4 linked regions of the Homo sapiens genome follow. The protein of the gene in region 2 purifies or fractionates together with the protein of the main gene of each other region. This does not show direct contact. Each region holds a gene or a part of one and is shown on either strand. Other genes may lie near its edges. The genes, in order: RAB39A, SLC35D2, XPOT and MARCHF5.

Region 1 (4,359 bases), on a different chromosome or scaffold from region 2:
AGGCACAGGTGACTGTACTTTCAACTGCTAAATTTTCAGTGTTGGGGTTTATGCCATTTTGGACTGATGGGAAATTGTCATATAATATTGAAAACTGTAACAGTAAAATGGACTACTTCACATTTTGGGGGACAAGTATTTTCTCATTTGGTTAATTACGGTTTGAACTCATGTGAAATTAACCTAATGATATCAAGAAAATGCTGACAATATAAATAGTCATACCTTATATAGTTATAATTTATAATCTCTCCATAAGCACAATTAAAAATACATGAACCCAGAAAATGTACAAGTATTTGAAAATACAATTAAATATTTACTTCAAAGATGCACAAAAAGCACAAACGTGACTTTTGATTGGGTTAAGTCTGCAGGAACGTCCCTCTCTATTATTTCCACTTTGCAGGAACAATAGCTCAGGGTAAAAAAAGCAGAGGAAGCGGGCGCAGGGGCTCATGCCTGTAATTCCAGGACTTTGGGACTCCGAGGCAGAAGGATTGCTTGTGCCCTGGCATATGAGACTTGTGCCCTGGCGTATGAGACCTATACCCTGGGCAACATAGGGAGACCCCTTCTCTATAGAAAATAAAAAATTAGCCAGGCGTGGTGGCGTGCACCTGTGGTCCCAGCTAGCAGAAGGCTAAAGTGGGAGGCTCGCTTGAGACTGGGAGGTCCAGGATGCAGTGAGCTGTGATCATGCCACTGCGCTCCACCCTGGTCAACAGAACAAGACCTCGGCCCCCTCGCCCCCCACCCCCGCCAAAAAAAATAAGCAGAGGATATGCATCAATCAAGAATTCCTACGGGTCCATGAAGACACACATCTTTTTCTACTCCCTCTGCATAGGAACGAAAGGAAAAATCATGAGAAAACAAAATTCTCACCCATTGTAAATATAATAGTATGCCCATGAGCAGCATATCAATCTCAAAATGCTTACTCTATTTACAAAGTGTTTGTTGCATCATTCACTAGATTCTCAAAATAATTTTCCATGAAACACACTAATAAATGGGGTTATTAGCCTAATTTTACAGATAAGAAAAATGGTGCTTAGAGAGGTCAAGTGACTTACTCATGGTTAGATATTGGTAACCAAGTTTTCTGATTTCTTATTAAATATTCTTTCTACTATGCCACTTTGGTTTTCAAACAAATGAAGCAACTAAAGGTTAAGAGTAAAAACCTTATGATTCCAAAAAACTTCACTTGGTACTCTTTTGTGATTAAGAGTAGTTTACAGAACAGAATAGAAATGTACATTATAAAATATTTGACACTATGATCAAAATATCCCTTCCAGGAGAGTTTAATCAATAAGTTAAAAATTAGGAAACTCAAAAGTCATTTTACTGTCTTAATTGATTATTCTATCTTAACTTGTACTGATGAGATTGTAAAATGCAATTTGAAGGCTAAATATATCAAGCATCTAACCAATTTTTCTTCCCCAGAAAAATCTTTTCTGCATTCTTTTCATATTGGAAATTAGGAAATTTGGAAATTTACTTGGACAAAAATGCTATTATTAAAAACATTCCATGTTTACCTATATTAATAATTTTGACAATAGTTCAAAGTAAATTGCATTTACTTTCTTTGAAAATGTCAATACATAAATAAATTTTGTTCTTCTTGTCTAAATACGAACAGTACACCGTAACAGCAAAACATGTGCTGCTGATAGTCCAGGCACGGCAGCTCATGCCTATAATTCCAGCACTTTGGAGGCCGAGGGGGGCGAATTGCTTGAGGCGAGGAGTTGGAGACCAGCCTGGGGAACATTATGAAACCCTGTGTCTACTTATAATACAAAAATTAGCCGGGCATGGTGGCGCACATCTGCAGTTCCAGCTACTCAGGAGGCTGAGGTAAGGTACTGACAATCACCTGAACCCAGGAAGCAGAGGTTGCAGGGAGCCAAGATTGCCCCACTGCACTCCAGCCTGGGTGACAAAACAAGACCCTGTCTCAAAAAAAAAAAGCAACATTTCAAACATTTGGTGAGCGGTCCTCCGTTTTTAATTTTACAAATATTTGCTTAAAGTAGTTTGCTTGGATCCTTAGATATCTTTGTAAAACATAATGCATTTTTAGAAGCAATAAATTAGGGAACAAAAATGGACATAAAACTTATTTTCTTGTGTTGAGGCAAAATTAAGGGAGGACAAACATTTCCAGAGAATGGGGAAAAAACCTGGTACTTTATATAAGGAACTGCTATTTACGTCCTAGTCGATACTTCTGAGATTGTTTACTCTGCAGGTGAACAGTGCATATTTAAATGCATTTTGCTATTCAATATTAATTAACTCAAGAGAATGTAATTCCTGATAAAATCTTTTCAATTGACTATATATGCACAAAAATCCATTTGAACTGTCAAGAAAAATGAGTAATAGTGACATATCTGGACACTAAGGTCAGCGTATGCTAACAAAGTAAGAATGGAGGTAATTTCAAGAAAAAGATTGTCTGCTTTGCTTGGTAATTTAGCAAAATACCCAATCTAGTAGTGTAACAAGTAAGCATCATGCTCTGAATCAAATACCTTATAAAATAGTATTGGTGTGGGTTTGTAACCTTTTTAAATTCTTTCATTGCATCATTCTGCTGTTAATGTTGGTATTTATCCTGAACTGACACCCAATCTGTTCCTGTTAGTTCTTCAGCATGTTTGAAGTCAGCAGAAGCATTCTTTCCTGGGCTTTACTGCTTCCTCAGAAGAATGCACAGTATTTGGAACAAAACCACTTTTAACCCCTTCCCAGCCATCCTGAATACAAATTTCTCCCTTTTTAATAAGTTCATATATGTCTCTCGTCAAGATTGTGAAGGATTCTTCAACATTTGTAGCATCCTTTGCTGAGGTTTCTATATACTTCATTCCACAGTCTGCTGACAGTTTTTCAGCTTCTTCCCTTGTAACTTGACGTTGTGAAGCTAAATCACATTTATGTCCCACTAGCAGAAATACAATCCGAAATGGCTGTACATACATTTTTGCTTCTTCTAGCCAATCTTTCACATGTTCAAAAGATCGTCGGTTAGTAATGTCAAATACTAAAAATCCACCAACTGAGTTGCGGTAATAAGATCGGGTTATTGATCTGAAAAATGAAGAGAAAAAAGGTTGTATAAGGACAACTTGTTCTTTTTCTTCTCCTTCCAACAATCTAGCACCATAATAACATTTGAAGATATCTTAATATGATTTAACTAGAATTTATAAATAAAATATGAGGTATCTCAAGTGAACAAAAATATTCTATGGGACTAATACGCAAGTTTCATACACTGACAGAACACGAAAGTAGTAGTTATTTTTAGTTAGACAAATAAGCACTTACATGCTATGTCATCTCATACTGTCTGATTATTTGTTTTTGCTTTCAAAAATCTGATAGATTATTACATCATTGTGGTTAAAAATAAGCATATTGAAAGACTGAGTAAAGGGCACAGGTTGTACAACAAACTAGATCTTAAGAATCTCACTTGTCATAAAATTTAATGAACTCTTCTCTCTATCAGTTTAGGAAAAAGAAACAAGGGCTGTAGTATGGATCGAATGTCTGTGTCCCTCCCAAATTCTTATGTTGAAATGCTAACCCTAATGTGGTGGTATTAGGATTAGGAGGAGGGGCCTTTGGGATGTAATTTAGGTCATGAGGGTGGAACCCTCGTGAATGGGACCAGTGCCCTTAAAAAAAGATACCCCAGAGAGCACTCTAGTCCTCTTTCTACCATGTGAGGATACAAGGTGGCTGTCTGCAACCCAGAAGAGGGCCCTCACTGGAACCTGACCATGCTGGCACCAGGATCTCCCTGATCATCCACTTCCAGCTTCCAAAATTGTGAGAACTAAATTTCTGTTGTTTAAATCCCCATTCTGTGGTAATTTGTTATAACAGCCCAAACTCACGAAGACAGCAGACTTGTCACAGTATTAGTTACAGGTACAGTCTTGTGTTGCACCTATTCAAGAAACAGGAGACTGTATGGACCTGGGATATGAATCTGAGGTGTGCTAACGATTCTCTGTATGTCTCTCCAGATCTAGTCTCCATCCTTCTCTAGGCCTGAGGAAGCTGTCCTTCACAAAAAGCTTTCCCAAACTCCCTTGCCCTCCAGCTTGCAGGGGGGTTCAGCCAATGGGAGGCGCTGGCTGGAGACAGAAGGAAAGAGAAGTCAGAGTATTTATCCCTCTGTTTGCTTCTGCTGGGCTGTGGCTTAGCAGTGGTGGTATTCCTCTGCTTCTAGTCAGGGTTTCTGTAGGGTGGACCCTCTCCCATGGCTACAGCTGTCACCACGTTCTGGTAATACCATTCTCTGTCCTCTCCTCTTCCAACCAG
Region 2 (5,591 bases):
TTGGTTAGAAATAATCTTATTTTGACATTGAAGAAGATTCAGGGTATGCCACTGCAAACTGTGCCACTGTGAGATCAGGATTATTTTGAGCCGAGAAAGATTGAGAATCAACAGATCAGGAAGTTTGCTGCCTTCTCCTTTCTGCCTAAAAACCAGGGAATCAATTTCCCATTGTGAAGAGGACCGCTTCTCCCATCCCAGGAAGAGGAGAGCAATTCCTATCACTGGACGGAGGGTCGGCCCTGAGATGCATCTGCATAAACAAACCCTAAAAGAACCCTTCTCGTTCATCATTTCCACCATAGGTTTCCTAGTTACTTTCTAACAATTACACAATTTATTTGTTCCTTGAAGCCCAAATCCTCTTTCCTTTTTAAAACGTAAGTCCCCAAGTCTAACTGTTTCTTTGAGTTTCACTTCTTTTCTGTGAACTTCAGGGAACATATTAATAAGATTCGTATTCTCTTTCTCCTGTTAATCTGTCTTTTATCAGTTAAATTAGCAGGCCCCCAGACACTGAATCTAAGAGGGTACAGGAAAAGGTTTTCCTCCCTGGCAATGTGTATTTCTGAATTATGACATGGCCTAGCACTGTCTGCAACGATCAAGTGCAGGTGGGTGGGCCACATCATGGCTCAGCTATTGCTCTTCCTCTTGTTCCTGTCATAGATCCCCAAACGTATTTATGCTGGTGCTATTTATAATGGAAATGGAAGAGAAGCTGTTTCAAAAGAATGGGAAGAAAGGAGCCATAGAGGGGTCACATAGAAGGATGGATACCTGCCTTGCCATTTTGATGGACGGGGTGCGGTTTGGGCACCAGATGGAGGTGTGGCTGCCTCATGCGACCCCTCTTACCCAGCCTCTGCCCAGCTGCCCCTCACTGGCTGCACCCTGGAGGTGGCCCTGTTCACTACAATAAGCAGAGCCCCTGGGTGGATCGGGGCGAATCACTCCCCTTAGGAAAGTCAGGGCTCACCAGTTATTATGTGGATTCATCAGCTAGCGAAAGAAAGGGGTTGCAGTTGAAGGAAGATGCTTAATGTCGCTCTGGTTTTAAGCCATTCACGATTGAGTCGAAGCCATCTGATGGGCTGGTTTGGTTTTTGTCTGGAGGCAAAGCAGAGGAATTAATCATTCACTACCACAAAGCGGGGAAAGTGTGCCACAGAAAAGTGGGTTTGATTAGGGAAAGGTAGATCAGGCGGGCTTGGAGGCCAAGTTGTGAGTTTTTGAGTAATCATTCTCCCTTTGTGGTCTCCCTCCCAGGTCTGACCTTGCTTTTAACTTAGAAGGCTATATTTTTGTATTCCTGAATGATATCTTCACAGCAGCAAATGGAGTTTATACCAAACAGAAAATGGACCCAAAGGTACCAGACCTTGCCTATGGCTTTTTGGCTCTGTCATCTGGCCCCTAGAATTATATGAAAAATGAAAATGAATGTGTACAGTTGGAATGTAATTTAATTTATATAATATGACCTGTAAATTCCTTATTTTCAATTATCTTGTCTGTATAAGTTATTATTTGCGAAATTTTGGGTGAAAATGAGATATGATGGGAAAAGCCACTAGTTTAGATGCACACTCAGAACATATAAAAAGGGATTATTCTGAAAGGCAAATTAATTTTTTTACCAGCATCATCAATCACCAAGGCAAGGTCAGGGGTCACGATATTTGTTCAGAGAGCGCTAGTTTGGAGTCTGGAGATGTGGGCTACAGACACAAGTTTTTCTACTTACTGACTGTTGTGACTTTGAACCTTAACTTCTCCAAACTTCAGTTTCCTTATCTGTGGAATGAAATGACTGCAATGGATAATTTGTAAGGTCTTGTCCAGCAATAGCTGCTGCTTCTGATGATGAGGGGTGGGGCAGAGGAGCTTTGCTTTTGTGTGGCTGCCTGTCACGTGGAGGCCCCATCCCTCCCCCTCCCCCATCCCTCCCCCACCCCCAGCTGTTACAAGGAAGCCCGGAGGATGAGTCAGGCATATGTTTCTTTGTTCCAAGCTCTTTGTGCTGGATGAGGGAGTTCACTCTGACCAACAGGCTTATTTCCATGAGCTATTTTTTTTAATCTGCTCTTTTTTTTTTTTTTTTATCTGCTCTGTTTTTTTTTTTTTTCCCCTGCATGGCCTTTTTTTTTTTTTTTTTTTTAACGGTAGAAGTTTTGCAAAAACAGGTTTGTTGTCTTTTGAGGATCACAATATGTCATCCTTTTTTGAAAATGGTGAAGTGGTGTGGCCACTTTAATGAAAGTAAATATATGATGCTGCTGTCCTTTAATGGAAAGAGCAGATGTTTTTAAAGAGTTTTGTTTATATTAACATTTTTAATGTTCTTTATTTTGTTCCAGATTTCCCATTTTGAATTACATGCTTTAAAAAAAACCCCACATAATTAGAATGCTGGAGATGAATGGAACCCTAGAGGCTTCCCACTGCCATGCGTTTTCTCTGTAGTTTTGGTGTAAAACAAATGTTTATTCCAAAATCTCAGTACCCTCAAACCAAAGCATTTTATGTCAGAAATTTGCTGAAAATATTCCAAAAGAGTTGCTCAGAATGCACATTCTAACTTCGCATGAATATGCAGTTGTATAAATGGCTCCAGGAAATCTGTGCCTCACGTTTCTGAAACTGAGTGGTTTTTACATTTTTGTTTTTGCAGGAGCTAGGGAAATACGGAGTACTTTTCTACAATGCCTGCTTCATGATTATCCCAACTCTTATTATTAGTGTCTCCACTGGAGACCTGCAACAGGTGAGCTGATGACAATCATTACAGTTTTCCTTAGCTGGCTTTAAAAAATTTAATATTTAACATTTGATATGCACTGAAACAAAAAGTGTAAAGTTAGCTAGGACTACCAGGAGGGTACATGATAACAAGATGTTTGATATCCCTAGTAACACCTTTTGGCACTACCCTTGCATTGGCATTTATCCTTAGCCACATATCAAGGAGAGCCAAGAACTCTGGACTTGGTACTTTTTGGAAAACAACAATACAAATCTGAGTTTGAATTCCATATCCCCCTTTGCTAATGTGGGGACCCTGGGAGAGCTACTTACCCTAGAAGGGGATTTTGATCATTTTAAAACATAGGTTTGTTTATTTATTTGTTACTTTCTATTACGGACATTTTGAAACATGCACAAAATAGAGTAATTCAATGAGTTGTCAGGGACCCACCACCTAGCTTCAACACTTTGGCATTTTGCCATCTTATTTTATCTGTCCTCATCCATCCCCAGCTTTTTGTTCCTCTGGAGTATTTTAAAACCTATCCCAGCCATCACGCCATTTTACCTCTAAATATTCCAGGATCCACATTTGAATTTTGGGAAGGTGTTGTTCTTTCAGCATTTGCCCTGAAACCGTATCTGCTGCTGGTGAGAGACAAATAAAATGGTAAATTAGTGGTAAGATCTGAGGCCCAGTGGAGCGGTGGAGGCCAAGTCTCTCAGGACGTGTGGACATTCTCCATAGTGACAGCTCCAGTGGCCACCCCGAAGGGTGCAAGCCCGGACTTCTTCAGGAAGTCGCGGGCCACACAGCCTCTGAGAACTTTGCTGATGTGTAAGTGACTGTGAGAAACGAGATGCGATGGGCAAAACCCTCCTCAGCGGGACCTCCACCCACAGACTCGACTCCGGACACAGCCCTGACCAGCCAGGCGATAACCCCGTCATTGCTGGCCTGGGGCTGGGGCAGCACCCATTTACCCATGGACAGGACAGTGTTTCCATATTTAGCAATCAGCATGGGTGTATGTTGCCCACCAGTTGAAAGTCAATCCCATTTGCAGCTCTTTTAGGGTCTGAGTGACTCTGAAAGGCTGCAGGCTGCTGTGGACTCCTGGGCAGCTCCTTGTTCTTTCTCCAGCTGGACTTTCTCACTTGTCCAATTCTCTTCCCAGAAGGAGGGATCAGCAGAAGGGCTTAGCAACCTCGTCCCCGGGCACAAACAGCCATTTCCACGGGTTTATATGGAAAACTACCAAGTGGCACCAATCTCGATAAAGAGCTCTCTTTTTCGGGTTATTTAGAACGTTGTGAACCTGAGCCTCCCTGTTAATTCCGTTTTGGAAGATAAAGCGGGCACCTGCACCTCTCTAGTAAGAATGAGCAGGGCATGATACCTGAAAACACAGTATTTGTTTTTCAGCTACCATCAATCAATTTTAAACTGAGTCAGTGCTCCAACATTACACAAAACAAAATTATGAACTCTTGGCCAGGCGAGGTGGCTCACACCAGTAACCCCAGCACTTTGGGAGGCCGAGGCAGGCAGATCACCTGAGGTCAGGAGTTTGAGACCAGCCTGGCCAACGTGATGAAACCCCATTTGTAGAGAGTATTTTTAGTAGTAGTAAAAATACAAAAATAAGCCAGGCATGGTGGCGGGTGCCTGTAATCCCAGCTTCTCAGGAGGCTGAGGCAGGAGAATCACTTGAACCTGGGAGGCAGAGGTTGCAGTGAGCCGAGATCACGCTATTGCACTCCAGCCTGGGTGACAGAGCGAGACTCCATCTCAAAAAAAAAGGAAAAAAGATAAAAAGAAAAATTATGAACTCTTAATGAAGTGGTCCTAGAGGCTTGTCTCCTTTCATTATTATAGAAACGAGGGTTTTTTTTTGTTTTTGTTTTGTTTTGTTTTTTTAAATCAGCGGAGTTTATCTGTTCTGAAATTCTGGTATTTTAGATATATATATATTTTTTTTTTCCAAAAATATAAATCTAGAAACTCCTAAATATTGTTAAAACATCTCACTGGGGCTAAAAGCATATTTCCCCATGGCAACAACACTATGAAAGGCATAGTGACCAGAAACTGAATTTTAGGTTCTTTATGAGTAAAATAGATTAGGTGTATTATGTTAATAATGTATAACATTGTTTCAGAAGAAATATGTGTTCTTACATCAACGTCATTGACTTATAAACTTGTAGCATGGTGTTTTCAGAAGTTGCCCTCTGCCTGTAATGATTATCATGTGGAATCTTCTGCTTTCTCATGTGATAATAATAATAGCTAATACTTGCTGAGGGCTTATTATGTCAGACATTTTTCAAAGCATTGTTCATGAACTATCTCACTGCATTTCCACAGCAGAAGAGAAGGTCCTGTTACTATTTCTATCGTATAGGCAAAGCATCTAGGGCATTGTGCTTAAATACATTCCCAAGGATAGCAGGTGGTCAGTCCAGGCACTCTGGCTCTAGAAACACATCCTCCACTGTCATCTTTATTTACTTCATTTGTATATGAAAAGTGTTTGTTTTCTCCTTCATGTGTGAAAACATATCCTTCCCTTATAGAAAGTACAAGAGACCTAACATATACTTTATTTTTATTTATTTTATTTTATATTTTTGAGACAGCGTCTCACTCTGTCACCCAGGCTGGAGTGCAGTGGCATGATCTTGGCTCACTGAAACTTCTGTCTCCCACATTCAAGCAATTCTCCTGCCTCGGCCTCCTGAGTAGCTGGCATTACAGGAGCGCACCACCACACCCAGCTAATTTTTGTATTTTTAGTAGAGACGGGGTTTCACCATGTTGGCCAGGATGGTCTCAAACT
Region 3 (5,591 bases), on a different chromosome or scaffold from region 2:
AATATGGAGACTAACACCACCTACAAGTTCTTTCTGGAAGTGGGGGAAACTTTAATTGTAAAAAATTGTTGCCGGGCGTGGTGGCTCACACCTGTAATCCCAGCACTTTGGGAGGCTGTGGTGGGCAGATCACCTGAGGTAGGGAGTTCAAGACCAGCCTGACCAACATGGAGAAACCCTGTCTACTAAAAGTACAAAATCAGCTGGATGTGGTGGTGCATGCCTGTAATCCCAGGTACTTGGGAGGTTGAGGCAGGAAAATCGCTTGAACCTGGGAGGTGGAGGTTGTGGTGAGCTGACATCACGCCATTGCACTCCAGCCTGGGCAACAACAGCAAAACTCCGTCTCAAAAAAGAAAAAAAAATTGTTTATGAGAAATGAATGATGTATATGTAAATTAAAATAACAAACCATGCTTATGAAAATTTCAACTGTATTCACAAATAAAGACAGGTTCAAAATAAAAAAAAAAACCTAAACCTATAACTACCTCTGAAGCTGGTTAGTCTACTGAATTTAGAACCTGAAACTATTTTCTGGCCAATTCTTTTTTTTTTAAGATGGAAATACATTAGTATTTAACAGTAAATATCTTTAGGTAGTAGAATTATGGGTATTTTCTCATTTTTAATTTTTCCATATTTTCCACTTCTCCATGGCTCCTTTGTATTATGTATTGAGCAAAAAGAATAAAACAAAAACTTACCTGTTTCAAAATATGAAGATAATCGTAACAAAATCCAATAATATTAGAAGAAATATCATCATCCTCATGAATTAGTAGCTGCAACATCAGTGCCACTTTTGTTTCAATAGCTTGTAGTGCCTCTTGAGCATTCTTAATATCCCCATTCTTAATTAATTTACTCCAACTAACTATCAATGACTGTCCCATTCCATTTACCAACTTAGAAAATCTGGCCAGGAAGTCAACATCTTCTTCCTATAAGCAATCAAGACACATCTCTGTTTAAAACTGCCTGCCCAAGCTAAGAGGAAAAACTGAACTTTAATATGAATCAAGTGCTAATTACAGGATTCAATTTTAAAATGACGTCATATATTTAACAATTCCAGGCTGGGCACGGTGGCTTATGCCTGTAATCCCAGCACTCTGGAAGGCCGAAGTGGGTGGATTACCTGAGGTCAAGAGTTCGAGACAAGCCTGGCCAACATGGTGAAACCCCGTCTCTACCAAAAAGGTAAAAAATTTGCCGGGTGTAGTGGCATGCGCCTGTAATCTCAGCTACTCGGAAGGCTGAGACAGGAGAATCACTTGAACCCGGGAGACGGAGGTTGCAGTGAGCCGAGACTGTGCCACTGCACTCCAGCCTGGGCAACAGAGTGAGACTCCATCTCAAAAAACAAAACAAAACAAAAAATCTCAATTCCACTATGAACAAGTTGTGTCAGCATCTCCTAAGAGTTTGTGAGAAATGTGCAATTACAGGCTTTCAGGTTTAAGAACTGGTATAACCCATTCTCCAAGGAGAATGCTACTGAGAACATTTTGGCTAGATGCAGTGGTTTATATTATAATCTCAAGGGGAGTTTATAACATTTAGAAGAAAAAAAGCTATTATTATATTTAACTTAGTACCTATCCCAGTTTGTTCTAACAACTTTACATACAATGTTTTATATAAATTTACCAACCTGGTCAATGCTGAAAAACCCAGCAGACTGTAATACTTGACACAAAGATTCCACTAGTTTCATTTTATCAACAGGGTCCATTCCTTTATTTACAACTTCAAATAAACAGTCACATGCTTCTTCCCGTAGAACTTCTATTGACATATGACCTAGCAGCATATTTATAAACCTGGTAATGGGACAATAAAATTGTAACATTTTCAAAGTCATGAGTTTTAGATACTGTATTTTACAAGTTTATACTATAAAAATAATAGGCATACTTACCTATCATTGGCTATAAGGGATAAGTCTATCCAAGAGACATAAGCCCCAACTACTTCAAGGCACTGACACGTCACTTCAGAATTAGTAAACTGATAATTTTGTAATATTTGGTACCATGATTCCACCAGATTTGGAATGCACTGTTCCCTCATGGTATCTTTTATGAGAGTATTCCTACGAGCCTCCTAAAATACAAAACGCCAAATGCAAAGTAGATTACCTTACAAAATCATGTTTGATATCTGAATATACTTGCAGAGAGTAAACTTTCAGACTTGTTAACACATTCCCTACCAGTATTTCCTATTTACCAGCTCTAAGATCATATCCTGTGATTCTTTGTATTTCCTCTTTCTGTTCTACTCCTCAGTGTCAGAGTTAATTTCTTAGTAAATACAAACTATAAAAAGCACTGCTTAGAAATCTTAAGCATATTTTAAGTTATTTCTCAATATAGTAACATAGTACTTACACTATGTGATGAAGAATACAGAAGTAGCAACACGGACAACTCCTAAGCAATGCTTCTTCCTTGCTCAGGGACTATATAGCAGTATTAAATTGAGACTACCTTTCTCAACAGATTCATAAAAGAAAATCAACTCGTGTATGTCACTACAGTATTTGCCTAGTTAAAAAAAATTTAGGCTGGGCGCAGTGGCTCATGCCTGTAATCCCCACACTTTGGGAGGGCAAGGCGGGCGGATCACCTGAAGTCAGGAGTTTGAGCACAGCCTGGCGAAACCCAATCTCTACAAAAAATACAAAAATTAGCCAGGCGTGGTGGCATGTGCCTATAATCCCAGCTACTAGGGAGGCTGAGGTGGGAGAATCGCTTGAACCCAGGAGGCGGAGGTTGCAGTGAGCCAAGACTGTGCCACTGCACTCCAGCCTGGGGAACAGAGCAAGACTCCGTCTCAAAAAAGTAAAAAAATAAAAAATGTAATGTAATACTTTAATTTCAATATACCTCTGGAAAAAAAATAACCAAGTTTGAGTTCCTTCATAAAATAAAATCCAAAACATCAGGTAAATTTATAATTATATAACTTAAGAAAGTTTACCTCAAGAAAGAAAACTTCCCTGCTCTTTTTATTATGTGCCCATTATCACCTACAAAACTTACATTAAATATAAAAAATTCATGGTTAGTTACTTGCCTCTGATGTATGCACCACATCACGATCCACCAACTCTGAATCAATAGCCATGAGGATTCGCAGGTAGAGATCTACTCCCCTTGGATTTAGGTCCACTACTGAGAGAATGTCAAAAAAAAACTTGGGCCACTTAGTGAGATACTCTGTAACAAAAAGCAAGGCGAAGACTTGGGCGGCTTTATTTCGTATAAAGGTCTTCTCTGGTTGGGGATTCAGCATCTGACAAACAGAGAAACAGTCCATAAAATTAAATGTAAATTGAAAAGACCCAGAAACACCAGTTGTCTTATTAAAAGGCAAAGTTTCATCAAATGTCAACATGGCCCAGATAAACTATGCAACAAATACTCTTCAAAATTATTTTGATAATTATGATTATCAAAATTATCAAAAGTATTTAAGTGATTGACCAGATGAAGAACAATTAAATGAACCATTAAAGGCTGTAATGATTATTCCTCATTCTTACACTTTGACAGAAAAGTTTCATGTGCAGAGTTTTAATAGTTCCTATAATTTCTTCTAAGAAGAAAAAAAAATTTTCCTCTACTTGCTCTTTAAGGAAAATGAAAACTCTAGCTACACAACTGCTTTATGTGTTAAGATTAGCTAAAATTAACTGAAAAGAACTCAACTGGCCCTTTATAAAGGGCTCTGGTGGAGAGGCTGTCCAGGAGGGCTCACCTTTAAGAGCCAAACAGAAAGCAGCATTTGTCAAGTAGTTAAAAACAACTACATTTTAAAACCAAAGTTTCCACAATGTGTCATGGAAACTATGACCATTTCAGTCATTGATATAATATTAAATTATTGCTAAACTACCACTTCCATGATCTTTAAAACCAGCACCTTTTAAAAAAGCTATGAAATCAAATGGAGGAACACTGATGAAAATCTTTGAGGTAAAGTTCCAAACTCTTGCAAAAAATAAGTTTAAATATCTAATAATTTGAGGTACTGAATGAAATTATGATTTTACCTGAGCTTGCAGCCATGATATGAGCGTCTCCCTAATTAGCTGTTGTTGAACAGTGGTTAGTTCTGAGTATCTGTTCAAAATAGAGAAGAAAAAGAATAATGGCTATATTTGGTGTCTATGGTTGTAAAAAATAACAGCCTCATATATTTGAAAGGGAAAATTTGTATAGCTCTCAATTATCTGAAGTTCCCTAACATAAACTGATAATGCCACTCATCATTGCTTTAAAGATAAGGACAAGAGTGGCAGGTAGGGCATCAATATCAATCTTTAATTTGTGATTCTGTTCATGTTGAAACAAATGATGGCTACACAATTTTTCGAATGAAAATGTTTTGTGGTCTGTGATCTACAGAATAAACCAATAGGTGAACTAGGAATCCTCTCAGTAGTGATTTGTTATTTTGCTTAATTAGTAAGTCAGAGATTCTGAACACAAGTGCCCATGCAGCTACTTAACTCTAAGAGAGAATTGTCATGTAGAAAAACAGGCCTGGTGTTACCAGATATTCTGACTTTTCCAGAAAAGCTGGAAATCTAGATTTTTCTGTGAAATATCTGGATTTTCATTTTTTTTTTTTTTTTTGAGACAAGGTCTTGCTGTATTGCCCAGGCTGAAGTGCAGTGGCACCATCATGGCTCACTGGAGCCTCAACCTCCTGGCCTCAGCTTCCCCAGTAGCTGGGAATACAGAAGCGCGCAATCATGCCTGGCTAATTTTTTAAAAAAATTTTTGTAGAGATGAGGTCTCACTATGTTGCCTAGGCTGGTCTCAAACTCCTGAGCTCAAACGATCCTCTTGCCTTGGACTCCCAAAGTGCTGAGATCATAGGCATGAGCCACTGCGCCCAGCCTTGGATTTTTATGTGTAACCAACAAACTCAGCACTTTTTTTATTTTTGAGACGGAGTCTCGCTGTCACCCAGTCTGGAGTGCAGTGGTGTGATCCCGGCTCACTGCAACCTCCGCCTCCCAGGTTCAAGCAATTCTCGTGCCTCAGTCTCCTGAGTAGCTGGGATTACAGGTGCATGCCACCACATCTGACTAGTTTCTGTATTTTTTGTAGAGACGGGGTTTCACCATGTTGGCCAGGCTGGTTAGTCTCAAACTCCTGACTTCAAGTGATCTACCGGCCTCAGCCTCCCAAAGTGCTCGGATTACAGGCGAGAGCCACCTCACCTGGCCAACTCAGCACTTTTAAAACACTTTGGGGTACATCAAAACGTATCTATAACCTGGATATAACATATACACTGTGAATTTACAACCTGTATTATGGTTTCCTTATGGAAGAAAAACATTAAATTAAAAAAATGACCTCTCCCCGCAAATCTGAGTCAAAACAGTAAGAAAAGCCTTACTTGTATTTAACTTGATGTTCCAGTACTTGAAAGCAGAAAAACTTCACATGATCATCACTGAAAAAGAAAAAAAGAAAATGAGATAAGCAGAATATGAACTGAGGAAAACAAATCAAAGGCAAAATAGTAATGAGTAATACAGCAGAAAAGTTTCTCAAACTAGACCT
Region 4 (5,591 bases), on a different chromosome or scaffold from region 2:
AATTACCCGACAATCACCCCTGCTTCTCACTATCTCTTTTGCCTAATAAATACAGAGGGCTGTGTAAAGCTCAGGGCCCTTGTCCACTAGAGGCAAGGTGCCCCCTGACCCCTTCTTCCAAATATACTCTCTTGTCTTTGTCTTTTATTCCCACGTTTGCCCCCTTTGTTCAGTCCTCCAAGGTCCGTGCAGGTTACATGCCACCAGAGGGGAGAAGTGGGAGTAACAATAATAGCAAACAACATGAGTGCTTACTATGTGCTAGTACTTATACAATCCTCACAATAATCCTGATTATTACCATCACCATACTACAGGAACAAAAAGTCCAGACATTTGATTTAGATTTCACAGCAAGACAATTTCTGTGATGGGATTTGAACCAGGTGGTCTGATCGTAAAGTACTGTAATCCCACTGGCAAGAGGGACAGGTGTGATGATTCATGCATATGCCAGGAGAGAAAGCACCTACAACATAGTTCCAAAAGGCCAGAACTGCTGCAGTGGTTTCTCCTCTTTTTATTTCCACTCAAGCTATTGAATGATAGTGAGGCTCAAATAGAGGCTTAATGCATAGGAGCCACAGACCGAATATTTATACAGTTCCCCACCTTTTAAAAACAAATACACTTCATTCTCTTTTGCAAGGTAATATAAGTAATGTTAAAGCCGTCTTACCAAGATTGTCCTTTGTAAATTAGAGTTAACACTACTGAACATCAATTTACCAACTATTGTAGCAATAGTAGGAAAGACAAGGGCTCCACACAAGATTCGAGTAGCAGAGACATGATCTGCTAAAGGATTGGCCTCAGCTGGAATTCGAGGAACAGGACAACCTATCCCTAGAGGAAAAAAATGCAGTGCGTTAGTGCTAATAAATCAGAAGAGTTAGACTACCTTCAAACATGGCTAAAAAAGCATGTTATTGTTCTTCAAGATCAATTTGGTATGCACTTTACAACCACAGTTCAGTGCCTTACCTGGAAATATACTATTTAAAATTTGTAGTTTATTCGAGTATTTGCGCCACAGTCTAAGCACATAGTCCTCCCAGCGAATCATCTTGCCTAATATCAGCATGACAGGAATAGTAGGAAGTCCAATTAAAAGGAATAAAGGATCAGCTCTCTCCATAACATCCAGACCTTCTTTATGACCTACAACCTGTGAAACAGATAGCATATATTAGAATTACTTCTTTTTCAAATGAGGTGTTGCATGTTAAGCTCTATTTTTTTAATAGAAAATGCTTAATTTCAAAAGAATACACAGAAATAAAAAGTTTAAAAAATAAGCTGGAAAGCTATCAGTCCTGATTTATTTATAAGAAATGTCTCATTCAAGGGAAAAACAAAGTTCCCAAGCCATTTCATACCACACAGGAATAAAAATTAAAATGGCTGACCCAGACTGATTACATTACAATAGAGGGGCGGGGACCTCTGATTGTTGCTTCTATTCCTTTATTTGATTTGGTTAGACTGGGCTACGGAACTGGGATATAATTCTAAGTCCTATTTGTCTTCCAGCAAAACAACTGTTTTCCTGATCTTCCTTCTAGGAGATTAAGCATAGCCAGCCAAGAGGTAGGACCGGCCTTCAAGAGATGGCCTGAAAGCTCATTTCTCTTTGGCTCTTTCTCCTTACTTAGTGGTGTGTAAGATAGGGTGTGATGTCTCTGGCTGGCTAAGTGTCTACCCTACAGACCTAACCCTCCTTAAGTGCACTTCCAAGGTCTAGAATTGAGGGACTGTAGTAGGAGGTCCAGTTTTGGTTACAGATCCCAGGCATTTTTCCCAATTCAGGAACTCTAGGGTACCCTATCTATGGGGGTAATGAAGCTAATACAATCTTTTCCTTACCCTATCCTAGTCTTGGGGCTATTTCTAAATTGGTGTAGATCCCAGAAGGCGAGAAATACAAAATTGGCATTTGTGAACTTCTACCTTTTCCCTCTCTCCAAAATCCTTTTCACTTCCACATCAATCTTGGCCTTAAATTTACCTCTTTTTGTTGTTGTTTTTGAGATGGAGTCTCGCTGTGTTGCCCAGGCTGGAGTGCAGTGGTGTGATCTTGGCTCACTGCAACCTCCGGCTCCTGGATTCAAGCGATTCTTCTGCCTTAGCCTCCCGAGTAGCTGGGATTACAGGGGCATGCCACCATGCCCAGCTAATTTGTGTATTTTTAGTAGAGACGAGGTTTCATCATGTTGGCCAGGTTGGTCTCGAACTCCTGACCTCAGGTGATCAGCCTGCCTCGGCCTCTCAAAGTGCTGGGATTACAGGCGCGAGCCACCGTGCCTGGCCAAAAATTTTTTTTTTTTTTTTGAGACGGAATTTTTTGCTCTTGTTGCCCAGGCTGGAGTGCAATGGCACGATCTTGGCTCACTGCAACCTCTGCCTCCCAGGTTCAAGCAATTCTCCTGCCTCAGCCTTTCGAGTAGCTGGGATTACAGGTGTGCACCTCCACGCCCAGCTAATTTTTGTATTTTTAGTAGAGACGGGGTTTCTCCACATTGGTCAGGCTGATCTCGAACTCCTGACCTCAGGTGATCCACCCGCCTCGGCCTCCGACAGTGCTGGGATTACAGGCGTGAGCCACTGCGCCCGGCCCCAGAAATGTTTTATGAAAGTGTGTGGAGAGGACCAAATTTGAGCTATGGATATAGTCCAGATTTCCACTTGGTTAATTTATCTAATTAAGATGTAATATTAAAGGGCAGGAGGCTAGCCTCTTCCTAATGGTCAATAATGTCATCGAATTTGATATTCTTCTGTGTCTCCAGGTAGAACTTAACAACTTCCTATCTTGCATGTGGAAGGTGATCCTTTTGAGTTGCCCTAAAGTGAAATGGTCTGGTTTATGATATTTCATAAACCCCAATTCCATAATGGTAGCAAAAGTTAGCTGGCCATGACTGTTTTACCTATAATGATTTCCCAGGAAATTTCTTTATCTATCTATCTATCTATCTATCTATATATCTATCATCTATCTATCTATCTATCTATCTATCTATCTATCTATCTATCTATCTATCTATCTATCTGAGACGGAGTTTCAGTCTTGGCATGATCTTGGCTCACTGCAACCTCCACCTCCTGAGTTCAAGCTATTCTTCTGCCTCAACCTCCTGAGTAGATGGGATTACAGGCACATGGCACAACACCTGGCTACTTTTTTGTATTTTTAGTAGAAATGGGGTTTCACCACGTTAGCCAGGTTGGTCTCGAATTCCTGACCTCAGGTGATCCGCCTGCCTTGGCCCCCCAAAGTGCTGGGATTATAGGCGTGACCCACCACGCCCGGCCAGGAAATTCCTTTAAAGAAAAAAAAAGACAGGGTCTTGCTACGTTTCCCAGGTTGGCTTTGTACTCCTGGGCTCAAGCAATCTTCCCACCTCACCCTCCTGAGTAGCTGGAACTACAGATGAGTGCCACCACGTCTGGCTAAGAAATTCTATTTTTATATCATTAAAAATTTCAATATAATGATCACTCTAACATTATAACTAAATATGATTAAATATTCTCAAAGTGTTAGCAAATAAATTCAGAATATTTGAAAAAATCCTTTGTCGGGTTATGTGTCCTTTTTTTGGGTTTAGAAATATAAAGAAGAGTGAATATTCAGGTATAGACTAGAGCGAACAAGAGGAAGTTTGTTTCTCATGGGTAGCAGTAAAAACCTTATAAGGTGTTTAAGAATAAGGAAACAAAAAGGAAGTAGGGGTTGGGCACTGTGACTCACAATTGTAATCCTAGCACTTTGGGAGGCTGAGGCAGGCGGATCACCTGAGGTCAGGAGTTTGAGACCAGCCTGACCAACATGGTGGAACCCCGTTTCTATTAAAAATACAAGCCAGGCGTGGTGGTGGTCATCTGTAATCCCAACTACTCGGGAGGCTGAAGCAGGAGAATCGCTTGAACCCAAGAGGTGGAGGTTGCAGTGAGCCGAGATTGCACCAGCCTGAGCAACAAGAGTGAAACTCCATCTCAAAAAAAAAAAAAAAAAAAAAAAGAAGGAAATAGGGCAAAGAATGAGCAAAGGCCCAGTATTTCACTTGTTACAACTAAAGTGAAGAGAGATGCCCCATGCTCAAGCAAGTTAGAAGTGGGATGAGGCTCATCATTCACACATGCATTCATTCATTCACTGAATAATGATTTTGTGCTGGGGCTAAAATGGCAGGTTAAACAGATGTCTTTTGAAAGTGAGAGAAAATCAAACCAAACAAGTGTGCAAATATATACACTGTGAAGAAATAAGGTAGTATAACACCTGCAGTACACCACTTGCTAAAACAGTCATACTCAGGGGCAATAAATGAAAGGTGATTAAGCAATAGGCCTGATTTAATTTTGGCCAATACAAAGTCAGTGAACCTGTGTGTAATCACATACATTCTGCTTTCTTGTCCCAAGATTTAAAAACATTATTTTTAAGACTTCGATTTTGGGGTAAGCTCCAGGAATTATATAGAATGTCTAAGAATTTGTTATCTATGTATAAAATAAAGGCCTGGCTGGGCACAGTGGCTCACGCCTGTAATCCAAGCACTTTGGGAGGCTGAGGTAGGTGGGTAACTTGAGTCTAGGAGTTTGAGACTGGGCAACATGGTGAAACCCTGTCTCTACAAAAAATACAAAAATTAGCAGGGCGTGGTGGCATGTGTATGTAGTCCCAGCTGTGCAGGAGGCTGAGGTGGGAGGATCACCTGAGCCCAGGGAGTTCGAGGATGCAGTGAGCCGTGACTGCGCCACTGCATTCCAGCCTGGGTAACAGAATGAGACTCTGTCTCAAAAAAAAAAAAAAGAAAAAAAAAAAAGAGAAAAACAAAAGACCTATAGAATTGCAGGTTTAGAGAAAAATAATTTTTTGTTTTTCCTGCAGAAGGGCTAAAAGCTAGATTTTCATATCTAGGTAGGCCTGCAGTTCATTGCTGCTGAAAGGCTAACAGTTTTAATTAAGGTCTGAGCTTTTAAATTATTATTAGAATTCTACATTAATTAATTAGAGACAGAGTCTTGCTCTGTCGCCCAGGCTGGAGTGCAATCTTGGCTCACTACAACCTCTGCCTCCCAGGTTCAAGCGATTCTCACGCCTCAGCATCCGGAGTAGCTGGGAATACAGCCACTATGCCTAATTTTTTCTTTGTATTTTTGGTAGAGATGGGGTTTCATCATGTTGACCAGGCTGGTCTCCAACTCCTGGCCTCAAGGGTTCTGCCTGCCTCAGCTTCCCAACGTGCTGGGATTACAGGCATGAGCTACAGCACCTGGCCAGAATCCTAACAAGAGGATGAAACAGTGATGAAATAACAGGGTTTTTTTTTTTTTAACTCAGAATCAAGGATAAGTAAGTACTGTAATTAAGAATGGGCAATGCTAATGGGGGCTGTCTTTGCACTAGAGGCAAAAATGGGAACTAGGCTAAACATATTAAGGTTCCACTGTTCCAGGATAAAATGTTCCAGCTGCCTCTGGGACCAGGCTTCACTTAAGGAGCCAAGGGACAGGAGTCCTAATGCTTCTCTGCTGTGTGGCACTGGACCTGTAAACTCTCTAAACCAGTAAACTAGGAATAA

What was found.
Region 1: the proteins of SLC35D2 (region 2) and RAB39A purify together in Homo sapiens (affinity purification with mass spectrometry; one large-scale study listed by BioGRID and IntAct). This does not show direct contact.
Region 3: the proteins of SLC35D2 (region 2) and XPOT purify together in Homo sapiens (affinity purification with mass spectrometry; one large-scale study listed by BioGRID and IntAct). This does not show direct contact.
Region 4: the proteins of SLC35D2 (region 2) and MARCHF5 purify together in Homo sapiens (affinity purification with mass spectrometry; one large-scale study listed by BioGRID and IntAct). This does not show direct contact.

Annotation. Positions count from the first base shown.
Region 1 is NC_000011.10:107,960,701-107,965,059, reverse strand, and holds the end of RAB39A (ras-related protein Rab-39A), read right to left. Parts: intron 3,115-4,359; coding exon 2,688-3,114; 3' UTR 1,578-2,687; downstream 1-1,577. UniProt on the Homo sapiens protein: The small GTPases Rab are key regulators of intracellular membrane trafficking, from the formation of transport vesicles to their fusion with membranes.
Region 2 is NC_000009.12:96,341,080-96,346,670, reverse strand, and holds part of SLC35D2 (nucleotide sugar transporter SLC35D2), read left to right. Parts: intron 1-1,269; coding exon 1,270-1,372; intron 1,373-2,674; coding exon 2,675-2,767; intron 2,768-5,591. UniProt on the Homo sapiens protein: Nucleotide sugar antiporter transporting UDP-N-acetylglucosamine (UDP-GlcNAc) and UDP-glucose (UDP-Glc) from the cytosol into the lumen of the Golgi in exchange of UMP.
Region 3 is NC_000012.12:64,416,588-64,422,178, reverse strand, and holds part of XPOT (exportin-T), read right to left. Parts: intron 5,482-5,591; coding exon 5,425-5,481; intron 4,134-5,424; coding exon 4,064-4,133; intron 3,304-4,063; coding exon 3,085-3,303; intron 2,110-3,084; coding exon 1,925-2,109; intron 1,827-1,924; coding exon 1,658-1,826; intron 945-1,657; coding exon 708-944; intron 1-707. UniProt on the Homo sapiens protein: Mediates the nuclear export of aminoacylated tRNAs. In the nucleus binds to tRNA and to the GTPase Ran in its active GTP-bound form. Docking of this trimeric complex to the nuclear pore complex (NPC) is mediated through binding to nucleoporins.
Region 4 is NC_000010.11:92,344,926-92,350,516, reverse strand, and holds part of MARCHF5 (E3 ubiquitin-protein ligase MARCHF5), read right to left. Parts: intron 1,169-5,591; coding exon 985-1,168; intron 847-984; coding exon 680-846; intron 1-679. UniProt on the Homo sapiens protein: Mitochondrial E3 ubiquitin-protein ligase that plays a crucial role in the control of mitochondrial morphology by acting as a positive regulator of mitochondrial fission and as an important regulator of immune response.